2 linked regions of the Homo sapiens genome follow. The gene in region 1 interacts genetically with each later gene. Each region holds a gene or a part of one and is shown in the gene's direction. Other genes may lie near its edges.

Evidence for each region. Genes that interact genetically often act in the same process or in processes that back each other up.
Region 2: changes in FAM89B (region 1) and ARID1A together harm fitness more than expected from each alone (negative genetic interaction), as found in Homo sapiens cells (one large-scale study listed by BioGRID).

The regions. Positions count from the first base shown.
Region 1 is NC_000011.10:65,571,412-65,576,466, forward strand, and holds FAM89B (leucine repeat adapter protein 25), read left to right. Parts: upstream 1-1,126; 5' UTR 1,127-1,258; coding exon 1,259-1,549; intron 1,550-1,941; coding exon of another isoform or gene 1,942-1,951; coding exon 1,952-2,230; 3' UTR 2,231-2,779; downstream 2,780-5,055. Other genes in the region: protein ZNRD2, read left to right, coding at 1-323; EHBP1L1 (EH domain-binding protein 1-like protein 1), read left to right, coding at 4,892-4,995. UniProt on the Homo sapiens protein: Negatively regulates TGF-beta-induced signaling; in cooperation with SKI prevents the translocation of SMAD2 from the nucleus to the cytoplasm in response to TGF-beta.
Region 2 is NC_000001.11:26,775,823-26,779,309, forward strand, and holds part of ARID1A (AT-rich interactive domain-containing protein 1A), read left to right. Parts: intron 1-3,200; coding exon 3,201-3,487. UniProt on the Homo sapiens protein: Involved in transcriptional activation and repression of select genes by chromatin remodeling (alteration of DNA-nucleosome topology).

The DNA.
Region 1 (5,055 bases):
TCTCCCAAGCTCGGGAGCACCAGCTGGCCTCAGCCTCAGAGCTCCCCCTGGGCTCTCGACCTGCGCCCCAGCCCCCAGTACCTCGTCCGGAGCACTGTGAGGGAGCTGCAGCAGGACTCAAGGCAGCCCAGGGGCCACCTGCTCCTGCTGTGCCTCCAAATACAGATGTCATGGCCTGCACACAGACAGCCCTCTTGCAGAAGCTGACCTGGGCCTCTGCTGAACTGGGCTCTAGCACCTCCCTGGAGACTAGCATCCAGCTGTGTGGCCTTATCCGCGCATGTGCGGAGGCCCTGCGCAGCCTGCAGCAGCTACAGCACTAAGAGAAGCCCCTGAGAAAAACCCTCTAGAAAAACAGCTGTTCCTCTGTGTGGTTTGTTTTTTTCCTGGTTCCAAGTGTGCATGCCAGCCCCAGCTCCACTCACCTTTTTCCAGCTTTTGGCCTCTTCACCTCTCCACTCTGCTCTCCTTGACGCCCTGAGATGAGTTGAGCTTGTTTCTTCTCAGTTTCCCCAGTCAGGATGAGGGAGTAGGTAGAGGACTATGTGATGCCCCTTTTCTAAGGAAGAAGCCATAGCCTTTTCAAAGGTAGCAGCCAGAGGGGTGGACCCTAGCCTTGTCTCTGGCAGCACCTCTGCAGCCTCTTCCGCCATCTGGTGTCCATTCCCCACCTGGAAGTGAGGTTTTGTGTTCCGATCCCCTTGATAGATTCCCCTCCTTCCCCTGAGCATCCTGACCCTATCAGCCTATCCCATCTCATGCCCACCCCAGGTACTCAGACACCGACAGGAGTTTGTGGTGACCCCAGCGTCAGGTGGCACGTTAGGCACCAAGTGTGGACTTGCCAGTCTCCTGACTCCACTGTTAGATCATTTTCCTTGGGTGTGGGGGCGGGGCGGGGCGCGGCGGGGAGACGGGGTAGCAAAAAGAACCGTGAAGAAACCACGCCTGCCCCCTTCAGCCTTTTCCCCCCTCCGCCGCATTTTTCCATCTCCCCTTGAGTGAGTGGATGTCCCGTTGCCTTTTCTCAGCTTTGCGCGACGTGGTCCCACAACCGTTGCCTTTTTAAGAGAGGCCCGGCCCATCCAGAGGGGGTGGGGCAGAGGCGGAGTCTGAGGAGCTGGGGAAGGAACAAAGCGAGGCCTGCGGGCGGCGGCTGGGCTCCGGCGGGGCCGCGGGGTGCGGGGCCTGCGGGCGGCGGCCCGGGCGGAGCGTTGGAGGGAAGGAGGTGGCATCGCCGTCCGCGCCGGCCCCGGCCATGAACGGGCTGCCCTCGGCAGAGGCGCCGGGCGGGGCGGGCTGCGCTTTGGCCGGGCTCCCACCGCTGCCGCGCGGCCTCAGCGGCCTCCTTAATGCGAGCGGGGGCTCGTGGCGGGAGCTGGAGCGCGTCTACAGCCAGCGCAGCCGCATCCACGACGAGCTGAGCCGCGCCGCCCGCGCCCCGGACGGGCCCCGCCACGCCGCCGGCGCCGCCAACGCGGGACCCGCAGCCGGCCCGCGTCGTCCTGTCAACCTCGACTCAGCGCTGGCCGCGCTGCGCAAGGAGATGGTGAGTGGGTGGGCGCCGGGCCAGCTGGGCGGGGGGCTGACGCGGAGGAACGCAGGGGACTGGGACAGGCGGCCTGGGTCTCAGAGGACTTGCAGGCACCAGTTGGGTTGCAAGGGTTATGGTAACAATAATTAGTGATAGTTACCAATTATGGCAGTAGTTACCATATATTTTCAAATGTTTTGCTGACGTTACTTCATTTCATCCGGCTAAATGGATAACCCCATTTTTTGGGTGAGGGTCATGACTAAAGTTGCATAGCTTGCAGGTGGTGCCTGATGTCCACAAAAACTTCGTTTAGGAAGGTGCGGGGAAGATGGGCTGGGGCCCACTATTCCAGGGGGCGGGGCTGGGCTGGGGTGGCCTGGACCCCAACTCCAGCCCACCCTCAGTTGTCTGCAGGTGGGGCTGCGGCAGTTGGACATGTCCTTGTTGTGCCAGCTGTGGGGCCTGTACGAGTCAATCCAGGACTACAAACACCTGTGCCAAGACCTGAGCTTCTGCCAGGACCTGTCATCCTCCCTCCATTCGGACAGCTCCTACCCACCGGATGCGGGCCTGTCTGACGACGAGGAGCCTCCCGATGCCAGCCTGCCTCCTGACCCGCCACCCCTTACTGTGCCCCAGACGCACAATGCCCGTGACCAGTGGCTGCAGGATGCCTTCCACATCAGCCTCTGAAGGGCTGGGGGGCAGGGGGCATGCACCCATGCAAAAGGCTCAGAAACTCCCCCTCCGGCAAGCCCTCAGACTTCGGAGCCTGCGCCTTCCCCCCTACCGCCTCACCTCACAGGAGGGCCAGGCATGTATTCCTCAGAGGCGAAACTGCCAAACTCTTTCTCCTGTCTTGGGTTGGCTGGCACTGGGGCGGGCATCTAGGGTACAGCCTCTGCTCATGGCACTGGGCCTCCAGTTCTTCCACATGTGTGCACCCCCAGCTTGGCCAACCCTCAGCCTTGCGGTGGGGCCCGAAGCATCTTCCCTTCCGCTTGGCGTCTCTGGGATTGGGATGAGTGCCTGGCTCCCATCTCCTCCTCACCTTTTGTTGCTATCGGCAGCTGCTGGCTCAGGGGCATCCCACCTCCGGGCTCTGGGTTCCTCTGCCCTGGAAGGGCTCCAGGACCCGTCCCAATAACCACCCACGGCCAGGAGGGCCAAGGCCCCGTGCTGGATATTTAAATTTAGGGGCCGGTCTCCAGGGCGCGTAGATAAATAAATACACTCAGCGTCGTTGTGCTCTGCCTGGCTGGCTCTGGGGCGGGAAGACCGCGGTGTTTGTGGCAGGTGCGGCCCCGCGCTCTGCCAGCAGGTGGCGCCCGAGACCCCCTCCCCCCCCGCCCCGCGCCGAGTGAAGGCCCTGCCGTCCCGCCGGGGCGGGGCTGGGGGCGCTGCCTGCTGGCCGAGCCTGGCTCAGCCGCCGGGTGACTGCGGTCGAGTCACTTCCCCTCTCTCGCCCGCGACCTCCGAGTCCCCCGCTCCCTCCTCCCAGTTCGCTTCGGGCTTTCCCTGCCTGCCGGGAAGGAAGGAGAAGGAGCCGCCCACCTTGAGGAGGGAAACTTTCCACCCCGCGCGGGGCGGGGTTGAGGCGGCGCAGGAAATGGGTGGCCGGAGTCGCCGGAGCAAGGGGCCCCGGCGGGGGCGGGGGAGGCGCCTCCGGGAACGGCCTGGGACCTCACGCCCCGCGGGTGGGAGGGAGGGGTGGCAGAGGCCGAGGGGAGTGAAGTCGCGGCACCTCGGGCCTTCCCGGAGGCCAAGCATGAGACTCCGCGGCGGTGAAGTTTGATTGGGGTTCCAGGGACCCGTATTCCCCGCTCAGTCTGTGAAGACCGCCGGCTCTCCCCACAGCACTAGCGGTCTTTACAGTTATCTGTGGAAGGTTTCTTAGGAAACCGGGGACCCACACCGCTGGGACTGAGAACCAAACCCAGTTGTCAAGCCCACCGGAAGAAGCCAGCACGTTCGGAGACAGTGGGTACTCAGCCCCCTACACGCGCACACGACACCTCACAACCTCCTGAAAAGAGGTGAAGCCGCACACCGAGGTGTGCGGACGAACAGCACATCCCCGCGCCCTGCTGCAGCCATTTGCCTCCTGGAGATGCAGCCCAGATGGCAGTCCTGGCACTCAGACATCCCGTTAAACCAAGTAGCAGTCACGCACCGGGCTCCTGTCCATTTACACACCTTGCAGAGCAGCGGGAAGGAACAAACTGACCTATTGCCCCAGGGCAGCTGACACCTGCAGAGGCTCATTACCATGCAGGGCGGGTGGGTAGGCGATAAGGGCTCTAATCTAGGGGTTCACAGCTGCTAACGCTCCAGGCAGGCTTTCCTGGGGAGGGAGAGTAAACATACACAAAAATGACACGTTTTCCCCATCCATTATAGCGCATCCCATTTAATAAGGAGGCATGGCAAAATCAGCCAGGCTTTCTGCTAAATGCCTTCTGAGGTTCATCCTCTCAGGGATTCCCTAAAAGGCGGAACTACAATTATCCCCATTTAATAGACGTTGAAACTGAGGCTCAGAGTGTTAGCGCTTTGCCCAAAGTCACACTTGGTTGGAGGTCAGTTATGATTCTCCAGCTACTTGTCGGGGTTTGGGATTATCTTCCCCCTTGACAGCAGAGTCAGGTTCTGAGGTTGGGCCACCGAGGTTACTGACGCCTTCCTGCTCTGGTTAAGACGTGGGTGGCTGCACCTTGGAGTTGAGAGCTGGTCCTCGTCCACATTCACAGTATGACTCTGAGCAAGTCCCTTCCCCTTTCTGGGTCTCAGTTTTCCCAGCCGTTGAAAGGGGGCCAGTAGTACGTACCTCCCAGGGCTGCGGGCAGGAAGGAAGGCGGCCCGGGCAGCGCTCTCTAGGGTGGCACCAAGTTGCTGGTTGCCCTCTCTCCACGCAGCCTCTGCGCGCACCGAGCGGGCACTGCGGTCGGGCGACACCCCTTCCACGCCCCCCTCCCCCGCCCCCGCTCCCGCTCCCGGGTCGCGGCGCGAGGCCCCGGAAGCCGGGTCGCCCCGCCCCCGCGCTCCTGCCCCGGCCCCCGCCCCGCGCCGGAGCCCCGCCCGCCTTCCGACGGGGGTGCGGCTCCAGGAAACGGCGCGCTCCCAGCTCCGCGCTCGCCACCCGACGCGCCCCAGGCGACCCCGCAGACTCAGCCAGACCACCCTGCGGGCCCCAGCGGCGGCAGCGGAGAGCGCGGTCCCGGGTCGGAGCCTGGGACACCTCCGCACGGACGGGGCGGGCGGCGCGGACAGGCCATGGGGACCCGGGCCGGGCCAGCGGTGGCGGGCCAGCGGGAGCCCCGGGCCTGAGAAGTGGGCGGCGGGGTGGCGGGGGCCATGACCTCGGTGTGGAAGCGCCTGCAGCGCGTGGGCAAGCGGGCGGCCAAGTTCCAGTTCGTGGCCTGTTACCACGAGCTAGTGTTGGAGTGCACCAAGAAATGGTGAGTGGGAGGGAGGCGGGGGGGCTCCCCCGAACTTGCTGGGACCTCATCCGGCCCTTT
Region 2 (3,487 bases), on another chromosome or scaffold:
TCCATGCCAGTACTTTGCTTCCTTTGCCTCTGGGCACGGGCCCAGGATTTTGACAGCAATAATAATTTGTTTACATGATAACCTTAACACAGGATTGACTTCAAAAGGAATTTGGGAGACACTTTGTGGTATTAGTAAGAATTCAGATTCAATCGATGCCAGTGGGGACACCACATTTTCTAGAAGAATCTGTGTTTTTTTGTTTTTTTAATAGAGACGAGGTCTCACTATGTTGCCGAGGTTCATGAACTCCTGAGTTCAAGTGATCCTCCCAAAGTGCTAGGATTACAGGCATGAGCCACCAGGCCCAGCCTGAATCTGTGGTCAAATTTTTATCAGTGAGCAGAGTATGTTTTTTCCATTTTTCCCTTTCTTCTCTGAACAGTAGGGGCCTTTGTTGATCCCAGTTTTCCTTAGATGTAGAGTGGATGGGGGATTTGATTGTTTAACAATATTCTTTTTTTTTTTTTTTTGACTGAGTCTCTCTGTCGCCCAGGCTGGAGTGCAGTGGCGCTATCACAGCTCACTGCAACTTCCGCCTCCTGGGTACATGCCATTCTCCTGCCTCAGCCTCCCAAGTAGCTGGGACTACAGGCGCCCGCCACCACGCTCGGCTAATTTTTTGTATTTTTAGTAGAGACGGGGTTTCACCGTGTTAGCCAGGATGGTCTCGATCTCCTGACCTCGTGATCCAGCCGCCTCAGCCTCCCAAAGTGCTGGGATTACAGGCGTGAGCAACCGCGCCCGGCCCTACAATATTCTTACAAAGCTGATTCTTCAGACCCACCCTCCATAGGATGTGCACACTAGTGGAGGTGCTGGAAAGAGTTTGTGCTGCATCATCCTACTCTTTTTCTTTTGATCATCTTTAGTACCTACCAACCTGTATATCAAGGAGCTGACTTATTAATAGTTACCATTTATCGTGCTCTTATTTTGTGCCAGGTCCTTAATATTTTGTTTCATGTCATCCTAGCAACAGCCCTCAGAGGTAGGAGGTATGGCCATTTAGGGATGAGTAAATAGGCTCAGTCTTATCCTTGTTGAGGTTCACATAGCTGTCAGTAGAATCTATCTGATTCCTAAGCCTGATTTTATTTCCATTGCATAATATTGCCTACCATGAGAAAGGAAAAATTTTGATAGAGCAATTTTCATATGCCAGGTATTTGACATCTCCCATTTACACCTCAGAACAACCCTGTAAAGTTTAGGAATTTTTATCATTTTATACAGCTACTTCCTGGAAAAGCCAGAATTTTTTTTTTAAGAGACTCTGGCACCTAGGCTGGAGTGTAGTAGTGCCCTCATGGCTCACTGCAGCCTCAAACTCCTGGGCTCAAGCGATCCTCTTGCCTCAGTCTCCTGAGTAGCTGGGACTACAGGCAAATGCCACCATGTCCAGCTATTTATTTATTTTGAGACAGGGTCTCCATTACTCAAGCTAGAGTGCAGTGGTGCAATCACAGCTCACTGCAGTCTCAACTTCCGAGGCTCAGGTGATCCTCCCACCTCAGCTTCCCAAGTGGCTGGGACTACAGGTGCGTGCAAACATGCTCATGCTCAGCTAATTTTTTTTTTTTTTTTTTTTGAGAGATGAGGCTTCACCATGTTGCCCAGGCTGATTTCAAACTCCTGGGCTCAAGTGATTGACCTACCTCAGCCTCTCAAAGTACTAGGATTACAGGTGTGAGCCACCGTTCCAGGCCCCGGATAACTTCTTTATTTTTTTATAGAGGCAGGGTCTCACTGTGTTGCCCAGGCTGGTCTCAAACTCCTAGGCTCAAGTGATTCTCCCACTTCAACCTTCCAAAGTGTTGGGATTACTGGCTGGGTGCAGTGGCTCACGCCTGTAATCCCAGCACTTCAGGAGGCCGAGGCAGGAGGATCATTTGAGGTCAGGAGTTTGAGGCCAGCTGGCCAACATGGTGAAACTCCATCTCTACTAAAACTATAAAAATTAGGCTGGGCGCAGTGGCTCACGCCAGTAATCCTAGCACTTTGGGAGGCCAAGGTGGGTGGATCACTTGAGGTTAGGAGTTCAAGACCATCCTGGCCAATATGGTGAAACTCCATCTCCACCAAAAATATAAAAATTAGCCGGGCCTGGTGGCACACACCTCTAATCCCAGCTACTTGGGAGGCAGAGGCAGAAGAATCACTTTGAACCCAGGAGGCAGAGGTTGCAGTGAGCTGAGATCGTGCCACTGCACTCCAGCCTGGGCAACAGAGCGGGACTCTGTCTCAAAAAAAAAAAAAAAAAAATACACACACACACACTCTCACACACTAGCCCGATGTGGTGGCAGGCGCCTGTAATCCCAGCTACTTGGGAGGCTAAGGCAGGAGAAAAATCGCTTGAACCCAGGAGGCGGAGGCTGCAGCCAACTGAGATCACACCACTGTACTCCAGCCTGGATGACAGAGTGAGACTTCATCTCAAAAAAAAAAAAAAGTGTTGGGATTACAGGTGTGAGCCACTGCTTCCAGCCCCTAGATCTAATTCGAAAGCCCTTATTTTTTTTTCCATCTGCTCTACTGTTCAGCCAAAGATTGTGACTGGAGAGGAGTGTTTTCTTCTAGAGGTAAATAAATGGCCTATATATTATCCAAGGTGGAATTTGGGTCTCTGTAGCACCAGCTTGGACCAGTGTTTGGAGAGCTGAAGCCTCGTCCCACTCCTTATGCTGCAAGATCCATGGAGTTCCAGCCCCCTGGACTTGTGGGGAGCTTGGAGAAGAGAGCCATGAACATCTGCCCACATGGCATTCTCTTCTCTTAGCTTAAGTCACCATGCCTAAGCTTGGGTTCCACTTGGCAGTGAGATGGAGAGAGTGTCCTAAAAGAGATAATGGCAATGACCACCAGGTTGAAAACTGGCCTGGTGAAGAAAAGCAGAAGATTAATTGGGAAAAGAGAAGGCTAAGAGATGATTGGCCCTGGTGGGTGAGGTGCAAAGCTGTTGGCTAGTGTTCCTGGAGATAGGCTTACGTGAAGGTAGGTTGGGCAGAAGAAAGAACTTTGTGTTGGGCATAGAAGAGATTAAGATGAACAATTTGCTCTGTGGAGAACCTTTGGGAAAGGAGCAACTCTGCCTCTCCCAACTGATACAGAAGACTTGGGGAGGTCTCTCAAGTCAATAATTCTGTTCTTAGGCCACTTTTCTCCCTTAATTTATTTCCTGTTCTTTCTCTTTTTAGCTCCCAGGGTTGCTAGAGCTCCTTGTAGAATATTTCCGACGATGCCTGATTGAGATCTTTGGCATTTTAAAGGAGTATGAGGTGGGTGACCCAGGACAGAGAACGCTACTGGATCCTGGGAGGTTCAGCAAGGTGTCTAGTCCAGCTCCCATGGAGGGTGGGGAAGAAGAAGAAGAACTTCTAGGTCCTAAACTAGAAGAGGAAGAAGAAGAGGAAGTAGTTGAAAATGATGAGGAGATAGCCTTTTCAGGCAAGGACAAGCCAGCTTCAGAGAATAGTGAGGAGAA